Homo sapiens: one gene and its partner. The protein of the gene in region 1 purifies or fractionates together with the protein of each later gene. This does not show direct contact. Each region holds a gene or a part of one and is shown in the gene's direction. Other genes may lie near its edges.

What was found.
Region 2: the proteins of C1QTNF9 (region 1) and DHRS4 purify together in Homo sapiens (affinity purification with mass spectrometry; 3 studies listed by BioGRID and IntAct, with this or other methods). This does not show direct contact.

Annotation. Positions count from the first base shown.
Region 1 is NC_000013.11:24,311,805-24,316,807, forward strand, and holds part of C1QTNF9 (complement C1q and tumor necrosis factor-related protein 9A precursor), read left to right. Parts: intron 1-3,089; exon of another isoform or gene 3,090-3,173; intron 3,174-4,177; 5' UTR 4,178-4,199; coding exon 4,200-4,365; intron 4,366-5,003. UniProt on the Homo sapiens protein: Probable adipokine. Activates AMPK, AKT, and p44/42 MAPK signaling pathways.
Region 2 is NC_000014.9:23,959,661-23,964,663, forward strand, and holds part of DHRS4 (dehydrogenase/reductase SDR family member 4), read left to right. Parts: intron 1-241; coding exon 242-343; intron 344-4,917; coding exon of another isoform or gene 4,918-4,938; exon of another isoform or gene 4,939-5,003. UniProt on the Homo sapiens protein: NADPH-dependent oxidoreductase which catalyzes the reduction of a variety of compounds bearing carbonyl groups including ketosteroids, alpha-dicarbonyl compounds, aldehydes, aromatic ketones and quinones.

The DNA of each region.
Region 1 (5,003 bases):
GGGTTTTTCTATCCCCAAATTGTTGCCCTCCTTCAAGGAGTCCCACATGGTTCACCATGCCATGCACACCCCCCCACAGGAAGCGGGAAAGGGCACCCCCTTACCCTTTAAGGCCGGTCATTGCACACAATTACACGTCTCACTTTTGCTCATCCCCATGGCCCGTAATCTAGCTCATGGTCATACCCAGGCTGCAAGGGAGGCTAGGGAGTGCAGTCTATCATGGGCCCCTAGAAGCCCAGCTAAAATTTCTATTACTCTGGATGAAGGTGAGAAGGGGTGTTGGAGATTACTAGCAACTCCACGAAAGCACTGACAAGGATCAGAGTTGATACCCAGTCACCTTCCCAAGTGATGGTCCACACACAGTTGGAACCAGGATAGTATTTCTTGCATGCCTGCATTGATTCATTCAACAAATACTTGACTGAAAATAAGGAAGTAGAAAAATGCAGTCACCATCTTCATAAAGCTCTAACCCAGGTTGGTGCCTACTAAGTGATCATTAGTCTAGGTGTGGTGTACAGAGTAAGTGGGGACTGGGGAGGACAGTAATTCAGATGAGAGAGAGAGTGGATGATTGCAGGGAAAGATGGGAGACAGAAGAGGCTCCTAGCTCTAGTGCCTTCTGGGAAAAGACCAGACCCAGAAATTAAAAGTCAAGAGTGTAACTGTAGTTGAACTAATGAAACTGAGGGTCCAACCCATAGCTTTGTGAGAGGCACAAATGTAATTTTTTATTTTTCAAAATAACATTAATATAATTTCTTCTATATTCCTTGTGCAAATCCTCAACCTTCTACATTAAAGAAGAGGCTAAATAGGAGGTATAAACTTGCTAAAATTTCTTATTAAAAAATAGTGCCAAGCGGCCGTGTGCAGTGACTCACACCTGTAATCCCAGCACTTTGGGAGGCCGAGGTGGGCGAATCACAAGGTCAGGAAATCGAGACCATCCTGGCTAACATGGTGAAACCCCGTCTCTACTAAAATACAAAAAATTACCCGGGCATGGTAGTGGGTGCCTGTAGTCCCAGCTACTCGGGAGGCTGAGGCAGGAGAATGGTGCGAACCCGGGAGGCAGAGCTTGCAGTGAGCCAAGATCGCGCCACTGCACTCCAGCCTGGGCGACAGAGCGAGACTCTATCTCAAAAAAAAAAAAAAAGAAAAAAAAAATAGTGCCAACCTAGGTGGTGACCACGTCTCTAATCCCAGCTATTCAGAAGGCTGAGGCAGGAGGACCACTTAAGCCTAGAAGTTCGAGTCCAGCCTGGGCAACATTCATGAGACTGTATCTCTATAAACAAACAAACAAACAAACAAATAAAACAGAAATAGTGGCACAACTTACTTTGCTACGTATTTGGGAGAACGCATATTAGTTAATCAAAATCATTTGCTGAAGGTTGTCTACATGCTGTATAAACAAGCTAGATAGACTCTACCTACATCAAATATGCAAAACTAGTGAAATAATTACAGAAGAGTAACCATTTGCTTCCAGGCTGGCTTCTTCTTCCCTGGAGAGCAAATTGGAGTTTATCCTAACCTGACACCTTTATGATCTTCTGATCATTTTATTCCTGGAATAGTTGTACTCCACATTTTGAAAAGTTAAAATGAAAATTATAGAACCCTCAACAAAGTTTGGTTGATGGAATTTCGATTTGACTGCTTCCGGCCACTTCTGAGTTTAGCAAAGGAGGCTCGTGTATATTCTTCATGGAATTTGGCTCCAAGAAAACTCAACTCAATTTCCTGGAATGGAGCGAATTTGTGACTTCGAAGGGAAGCATCTGCATTTCCTTTCCCAAAAATACTCCATTTGCATTAGACTGCTCCCTGTGACATTTCCACCAGATGGCAATACAGTCTTTGGATGACAGAGAGTCTTGCTGGTTTTCAAAATCTCTAGAAATATTTGTGTAGGCACTATAAAAAAGCATTTTTTATAAATGAAAAGCTCCCATAACTGCCCCCCATTCTAAAGCAACCATCTTTATTTGCATATATTCACTTTGAGTTTTTGTCAATATTCATACAGTCGTAAGTACATTTATAATGTGCATGGCATTTTAGTCTACTATCAAAATTCAGCACAATGTATATCATTTACATATTTCTACATGACCTTCATAATTATTGCAGCAGTTACATACTATTACACATAGTAAACCTTTCCCCTATTGTTACATAGTATGTAGTATGCACGTTTTCACCTGTTATAGATAATGCTGCAGGTAATGGCACACAATTGGCACACAGTTTTGGAACATTAGGAAGAATTTTAGGGATAGCAATACAGGGTGAAAGACATAGATGTCTTTTGCTCTTTAACTTTTCCAGAAAGATGTGCAGATTTACATGGCTATCAGCACTGTGAGAGGATCTGGGTTCTGACCAGTTGCACTATGCCCACGTTTTTGTTTTACTTCATTTTTTTAAATCCTAAAAGTCAGGTACAGGGTCTTTAGCCTGTAATACTAGCACTTTGGGAGACTGGCGGGAGGATTACTTGAGCTCAGGATTTCAAGACCAGCCTGGGCAACAGAGTGAGACCCAGTCTCTCCAAAGAAAAAAAAAAAAAGAAAGAAAGAAAAATAGGCAATGGCTCATGCCTGTAATCCCAGCACTTTGGGAGGCCAAGACAGGCAGATCACCTGAGGTCAAGAGTTTGAGACCAGCCTGGCCAGCATGGTGAAACCCCGTCTCTACTAAAAATACAAAAATTAGCTAGGCGTGGTGGTGGCGCCTGTAGTCCCAGCTACTTGAGAAGCCGAATTGCTTGAACCTGGGAGGCAGAGGCAGCAGTGAGCAGAGATCGGCCATTGCACTCCAGCTTGGGCCACAAGGGCGAAACTGCATCTCGAAAACAAAACAAAACAAAACCAAACCCAGGTGTGGTGGTGCATGCCTGTAGTCCCAGCTACTTGGGAGGTTGAAGCAAGAGAATCGCTTGAGCTGGGAGGTTGAGACTACAGTGAGCTGTGATTGCATGACTGTACTTCAGCCTGCGTGATGGAGCAAGACCTTGTCTCCAAAAATTATATATAAGGAAAGGACTTGAAAATGCATTTCTCCCGAACTAGGTGATGTTTCCGTGTGTGTGGCCCTTCTTCACAGTGGCCTCCTAGAAAAACAAGACCCTGACTCAAAGAACACCTCTCACTACAGTAAGACTTCTTGGAATGCTTTACTTTTTTAAAAATTTAATTTAATTGTTTAATGTGGTAAAAAATATATAACATAAAACGTAAAACTAACCAGCTTAACCATCTTAAGGGCACAATTCAGTGGCATTATGTACGTTCTCTTTGTTGTGCAACCATCACCACCACCCATCTCCAGAACTCTTTTAAAATCTTCCCAAACAGAAACTCTGTACCCATCAAACAACTCCCATTTCCTTCTCTCTTCACCTCTGGCAACCTCCATCCTACTTTTTCTTTATATGAGTTTGACGGCTCTAGGAACCTCTTATAGGTGAAATTATCCAGGTCTGTCTTTTTGTGACTAGCTGGTTTCACTTCGCATAATGTTCTCGAGGTCCATTCATGTTGTAACATGTGTCAGAATTTCTTCTCTTTCTAAGGCTGAAGAATATTCCATTGTATGGACCTACCACATTGCATGTATCTATTTATCCACTGAGGGACCCTTGGGTTGCTATGGAAAATAATGCAACTACGAACATGGACATCTGTTCCAGTCCTTGCTTTCAATTATTTTGTGTAGATGCACAGCAGTGGAATTGCTGGATCAGATGGTAATGCTATGTTTGCTTCACTACTTGGAATGTGCCTTTATGCATATCGTGATAAAATTTGATCTGTACGACAGTCCTGTGAGATAAGTAAGCATTGATCTCTGGTTCAGAAAAGTGATTTCTTCAAAGTGAAATGATGAACGGAAGAGTATCCTGACCTTAAACTTGGCTTTTTAAATTGCCCGTTCACCTTGAAGAGTGGTTCCAATCACAAGTGTTACCTTCCAAGGACAGTGTCATTCTGGTTATAATCAGCTTGCTCCCCTGCCCTGAGCCTTCTGTCCAAGTTTGTGCAGGTGTGGGTCTGGGGCAGGGGACAGCTCATCCATTTCCCACTGCACGGAACAGAGGCTGTGTCCAGGGCCCCAGCAACAAAGATTTCTCCTTTGGGTTTCTGTTTCCCTCTTTCAGTTCAGAGTCTGTCATCTGAACCATGAGGATCTGGTGGCTTCTGCTTGCCATTGAAATCTGCACAGGGAACATAAACTCACAGGACACCTGCAGGCAAGGGCACCCTGGAATCCCTGGGAACCCCGGTCACAATGGTCTGCCTGGAAGAGATGGACGAGACGGAGCGAAGGGTGACAAAGGCGATGCAGGTACTCACCTGACGGCTTCGGCTGCCTTTCAACTTCTCTCTTCATTCCTTTCATCTCATTCACTCATCATCTGTGTGATTTTCCACCTACCCACTCACACCCCATCCATCCATACATACATCAACCCAGCAACACTCACTGGAGCCTGACCCCATTCATCCATCCACCCATCTGCCCAGCAACACTCACGGGGTCTGCTCCATGCCAGACTCTGTGCCAGGTGCTGGTGGAGAGCACAGGGCAAGATCGCCATGACCCCTGCCCTCCTGGGTTCTCTCATCTCTGACACCGCAGAACATTTTCAGTAGTATACGATGTCATGGATCCTCCCATCTCAGGTGACAGGTATGATGGATTTTTGGCAACAAAAGGCTAATAGAGAGATCTGATCACGAATTATTTGGCAGCAAGCACCCAGCTGCAGTGCAGGTGAGAGCTAATACCGCATCATGCCATGAAGCAGGAGATGCGGAGTGACAGATGACACAAAAGGAGACGAGAATCTGAAACCATACAGCTGCTGCTTATGCATCTATATGACCTAGGTTGGGACCCTGTCCCAGGGTCTGGGGATCTGGGGGACAGGATTCAGCCTCTGGGAGGGAGATTTGCCAAAGCTGAGAAGTCCGAGTGGTTTC
Region 2 (5,003 bases), on another chromosome or scaffold:
TAGGAAGATTTTGTTGTCATTGTTGTTGTTGTTTTTAATATAAAGATAAGGTCTCGCTGCATGGCCCAGGCTTCTCTCAAACTCCTCAGCTCAAGTGAGCCTCCCACCTTGGCCTCCCAAAGTGCCATGATTACAGGCATGAGCCACAGCTCCTTGCCCAGAAGGAAGTTTTTATCAACATGGGTAAATGCACCTCCCTTACTTACTGCAGCCCTGGTCCAGAACTTACCCCTCTCTCTAGGCTGTGAAGCTTCATGGAGGTATCGATATCCTAGTCTCCAATGCTGCTGTCAACCCTTTCTTTGGAAGCATAATGGATGTCACTGAGGAGGTGTGGGACAAGGTGAGAGGGGATTAAAGCAGGGGGGCCGGGGGGGGCGCCTTGGAACACATTCAGCACAAACTCCATCTGCTTTTAGAATGCATTTCTCAAGGGCAGTGTAAATGTGAGGACTCTTTGCCACGTGCCACACACCTGGAGCACACCTTGCAAAGGGCGGGTGGGGGTGGCTCTATCCCTGCCCTTCTCATTCGTTTCTGCTACTCCTAGTTCTCTCTGCTTCTATCTGCTCTTCACTAGCCACAGTCTGCTCCTCTCCCCAGGCTTTTTCCCTGGCATGCTCTTCTGCCTTGTTGATTTCCAACAGAGACGTAGGCAGCTAATATGCCAACAACTACAACACTTAATTTACACACCCACCTGTCCCCTTTTCAGCTGACAAAAAGTAATTATTTTTTACGAGTTGGGAAATATTAAATGCTGCTCCTTATTTAAAATACTAATTCTGGTGAAATGACCAGTTGCCACTTTATAACATACATCCTTTAAAAAAATAAAATAAAAACCTATATTATTTTCTTCTTAACTGCAATGTCAAGAAAATCTGAGATCCAGATGTCTAAATTCAAGTGGTAGAATATTGGGTTTTATGTGAAAGTGTATAATTACATTATATTCGTAATATATTTCACACACACTCTTTAATTACAAAGCTTTAATTAAAATATTTGTCTTTGTTTATTAAGGTTAATATTCCCACATGATTGGGAAATGCTAATTTTTATGATCTCCCATGGTTCTGCGTTTTACACTGATGTTGTATTAGTCTGTTTTGCATTGCTATAAAGGAATATCTGAGCTGGGCAATTTATAAAGAAAAGAAGTTTGTTTTGGCTTACGATACTGCAGACTGTACAAGAAGCATGGTGCCAGTATCTGCTTCTGATGAGGCCTCAGGAAGCTTACAATCATGGCAGAAGGAAAAAGGGAGCAAGTGTGTCACATGGCAAGACAGGAAGCAAGAGAGAGATACCAGTCTCTTTTAAACAACTAGTTCTGGCATGAAGTAATAGAGTGAGAACTCACTCACTGCCACAGGGAGGGCACCAAGCCATTCATAAGGGATCCACCCTCATGACCCAAACACCTCACACCAGGCCCCACCTGGAACACTGGTGATCACATTTCAACATGGGACTTAGAGGGGACAAACTTACCAACTATATCAGATGTCATCAAAATTTCTCAACACTAAAGTATCAGGTTGCCAAAATACTATGATTTATTTACCAGTGTTTCATACACATAAAGACCAAACTGCCAAAATGTTCTTCAGTGAGCTAGTTTTTGATTCTAGTTTGAGCTAGTTTGAGAGAAGGCTGGGCAACACAGCGAGACCTTTTCTCTATATTAAAAACAACAACAACAACAATGACAACAAAACCTTCCTTCTTAGGAACTATCATCAAAATAACTTCTCTTTCTTAAACCGTCTTTTCTTCAAAACTACCCAGAGATTTGCTGCTAACCATTTAAGTTTGGCTTCTTTCTTTCTTTTTTTAGACAGACTCTTGCTCTGTCTTTTTTCCTTTTTTTTTTTTTTTCCCTCGCTGTGTCATTGAGGCTAGAGGGCTGTGGTGTGATCTCAGCTCACTGCAACCTCAGCCTCCCAGGTTCAAGCGATTCTTGTGCCTCAGCCTCCCAAGTACCTGGGACTACAGGCATGTGCCATCATGCCTGGCTAATTTTTTGTATTGAGATGCGGTTTCACTGTGTTGCTCAGGCTGGTCTCAAATTCCTGGCCTCAACTGATCCCCACACCTCAGCCCCCCAAAATATTGGGATTGCAGGCATGAGCCACCACACACAGCCAGATTCTGATAGTCTTTAAAATAGAGGAGCATCATTCATGAACAGTCTGAATAGAGACCATATGAAAGTCAGTTTTAAACTAAGTACAGGCACGCCTCAGAGATATTGTGGGTCTGGTTCCAGGCCACCACACAATAAAGTGAATATTATAATAAAGTGAGTCACATGAATTTTTTGGTTTCCCAGTGCATATAAAAGTTAGGTTTACATTATAATGATCATCTAATGGAAGTCTATTAACTGAGCAATAGCATTATGTTTTAAAATATATATACGTATCTTAATTTTAAAATACTTTATTGCTAAAAAAATGCTGACAATCATCTGAGCCTTTACAACTTGTAATCTTTTTGCTGGTGGAGGATCTTGCCTCAACATTGATGGTGGCTGACTTAGGGTGGTGTTGCTGAAGGCTGGGGTGGCTGTGGCAGTTTTTTCAAATAAGACAGCAGTGAAGTTTGCCACATCAGTTGACTCTTCCTTTCACAAGAGATTTCTCTGTAGCATGCAATCCTGTTTGATAGCATTTACCCACAGTAGAACTTCTTTCAAAATTGGAGTCAATCCTATCAAACTCTACCACTGCTTACTCTACTAAGTACCTATAATATTCTGAATCCCGTGTTGTGATTTCAACAATATTCATGGCATCTTCACCAGAAATAGATTCCATCCCAAGAAACCACTTTCTTTGCTTATCCGTAAGAACCAGCTCCTCAGCCATCTACATTTTATCGTGAGATTGTAGCAATTCAGTCCCATCTTCCAGCTCCGCTTCTAGTTCTCTTGCTATTTCCACCACATCTGCAGTTCCTTCCTCTGATGCAGTCTTGAACCCTTCCACGTCATCCATGAGGGTTGGAATCAACTTCTTCCAGACTCCTGTTAATGTAGATATTTTGACCTCCTCCCATGAATCACAAATATTCTTAATGGCATCTAAAATGGTGCATCCTTTACAGAAGGTTTTCAGTTAACTTTGCCGAGATCCATCAGAGGAATCACTATCCATGGCAGCTATAGCCTTACAAAATGTATTTCTTAAATAATAAGTCTTGGAAGTCAGAATTACCCCCGATCCATGGGCTGCAGAATGGATGTTGTGTTAGCAGGCATGAAAACAACATTAATCTCCTTGTACATCTCCATCAGAGCTTTTGAGTGACCAGGTGCATTGTCAATGAGCAGTAACAGTTTGAAAGGAATCTTTTTCTGAGCAGTAGCTATCAACGGTGAGCTTAAAATATTCAGTAAACCATGCTATAAACAGATGTGCTGTTATTCAGGCTTTGTTGTTCCATTTGCAGAGCACAGGCAGAGTAGATTTAGCGTAAATCTGAGGGCCCTAGAATTTTCAGAATGGTAAATGAGCATTGGCTTCAACTTAAAGTCACTGGCTGCATTAGCCCCTAACAAGAGAATAAGCCTGTCCTTTGAAGTTTTGAAGCCAGGCATTGACTTCTCCTCTCTAGCTATTAAAGCCCTACATGGCATCTTCTTCCACTAGAAGGTTGTTTCATCTACATTGAAAATCTGTTGTTTGCTGTAGCCACCTTCATCAATGATCTTAGCTAGATCTTCTGGATAACTGGCTGCAGCTTCTACATCAGCACTCGCTGCTTCATCTTGCACTTTTATGTTACAGAGGTGGCTTCTTAAACCTCATGAACCAACCACTGCTAGCTTCCAACTTTTCCGGAGCTTCTTCACCTCTCTCAGCCTTCAAAGAATTAAAAATTAGGGCCTTTTACTGATTAGGCTTTGGCTTAAGGGAATGTTGTGGCTAGTTTGATCTTCTGTCCAGAACATAAGAACTTTCTCTCCATATTAACAATAAACCTCTTTTGCTTTCTTATCATTTATATGTTCAGAGAAGTAGCACTTTTAATTTCCTTCAAGAATTTTTCCTTTGCATTCACAATTTGGCTAACTGGTGCACATGGTCTAACTTTCAGCCTGCCTCAGCTTTCAACATGCCTTCCTCACTAAGCTTAATTGTTTCTAGCTTTTGATTTAAAGTGAAAGATGTGTGACTCTTCCTTTTGCTTAAACACTTACAAGCCATTGTAGGGTTAATAGTTGGCCTAATTTCAATGTAAATGTGTCTCAGGGAATATGGAGGCCCACAGAGAGGGAGAGAGATGAGAGAAGGGCAGAGCAGTCAGAACACACAACATTTTTCGATTAAGTTGACCTTCTTTTCTGGGTGTGGTTTGTGGTACCCCAAAACAATTATAATAAAACCATGAAAGATCACTCATCACAGATCACCGTAACAGATACAATAATAATGGAAAGGTCTGAAATATTCCAAGAATTACCAAAATGTGACCCAGAGACAAAGTGAGCACATGCAATTGGAAAAATGGCTCGAATTAATGCAGGGTTGCCACGAAACTGCAATTTGTAAAAAAAAAAAAAAAAAAAAAAAAAAAAAAAAAACACAATATCTGCAAAGCATAAGAAAATATGTGTCTATAACTTTTCTTTTAATTTGTATATTTTTTAAACTATCACAGTATGACAAATCCAAACATAATGGCTGATCCTTGATTGAACTCTGGACTTTAAAAAACACACACACACATTTGGGGGATAATTGAGGCCAATATGTTAGATAAAATTATCATCATTGTCAAACTCTTGGTTGTGATAACAGATTATGGTTGTGTAAAAGAAAATCCTTACTCTTTGGAAATGTATGCTAAGTATTTGGGGATAGAACATTGTACTATCTGCAACTGAGTTTACTTATTTTATTTTAGGTTATTTATTTATTTTTGTGATGGAGCCTCACTCTGTTACCCAGGCTGGAGTGCAGTGGTGCTATCTCAGCTCACTGCAACCTCCA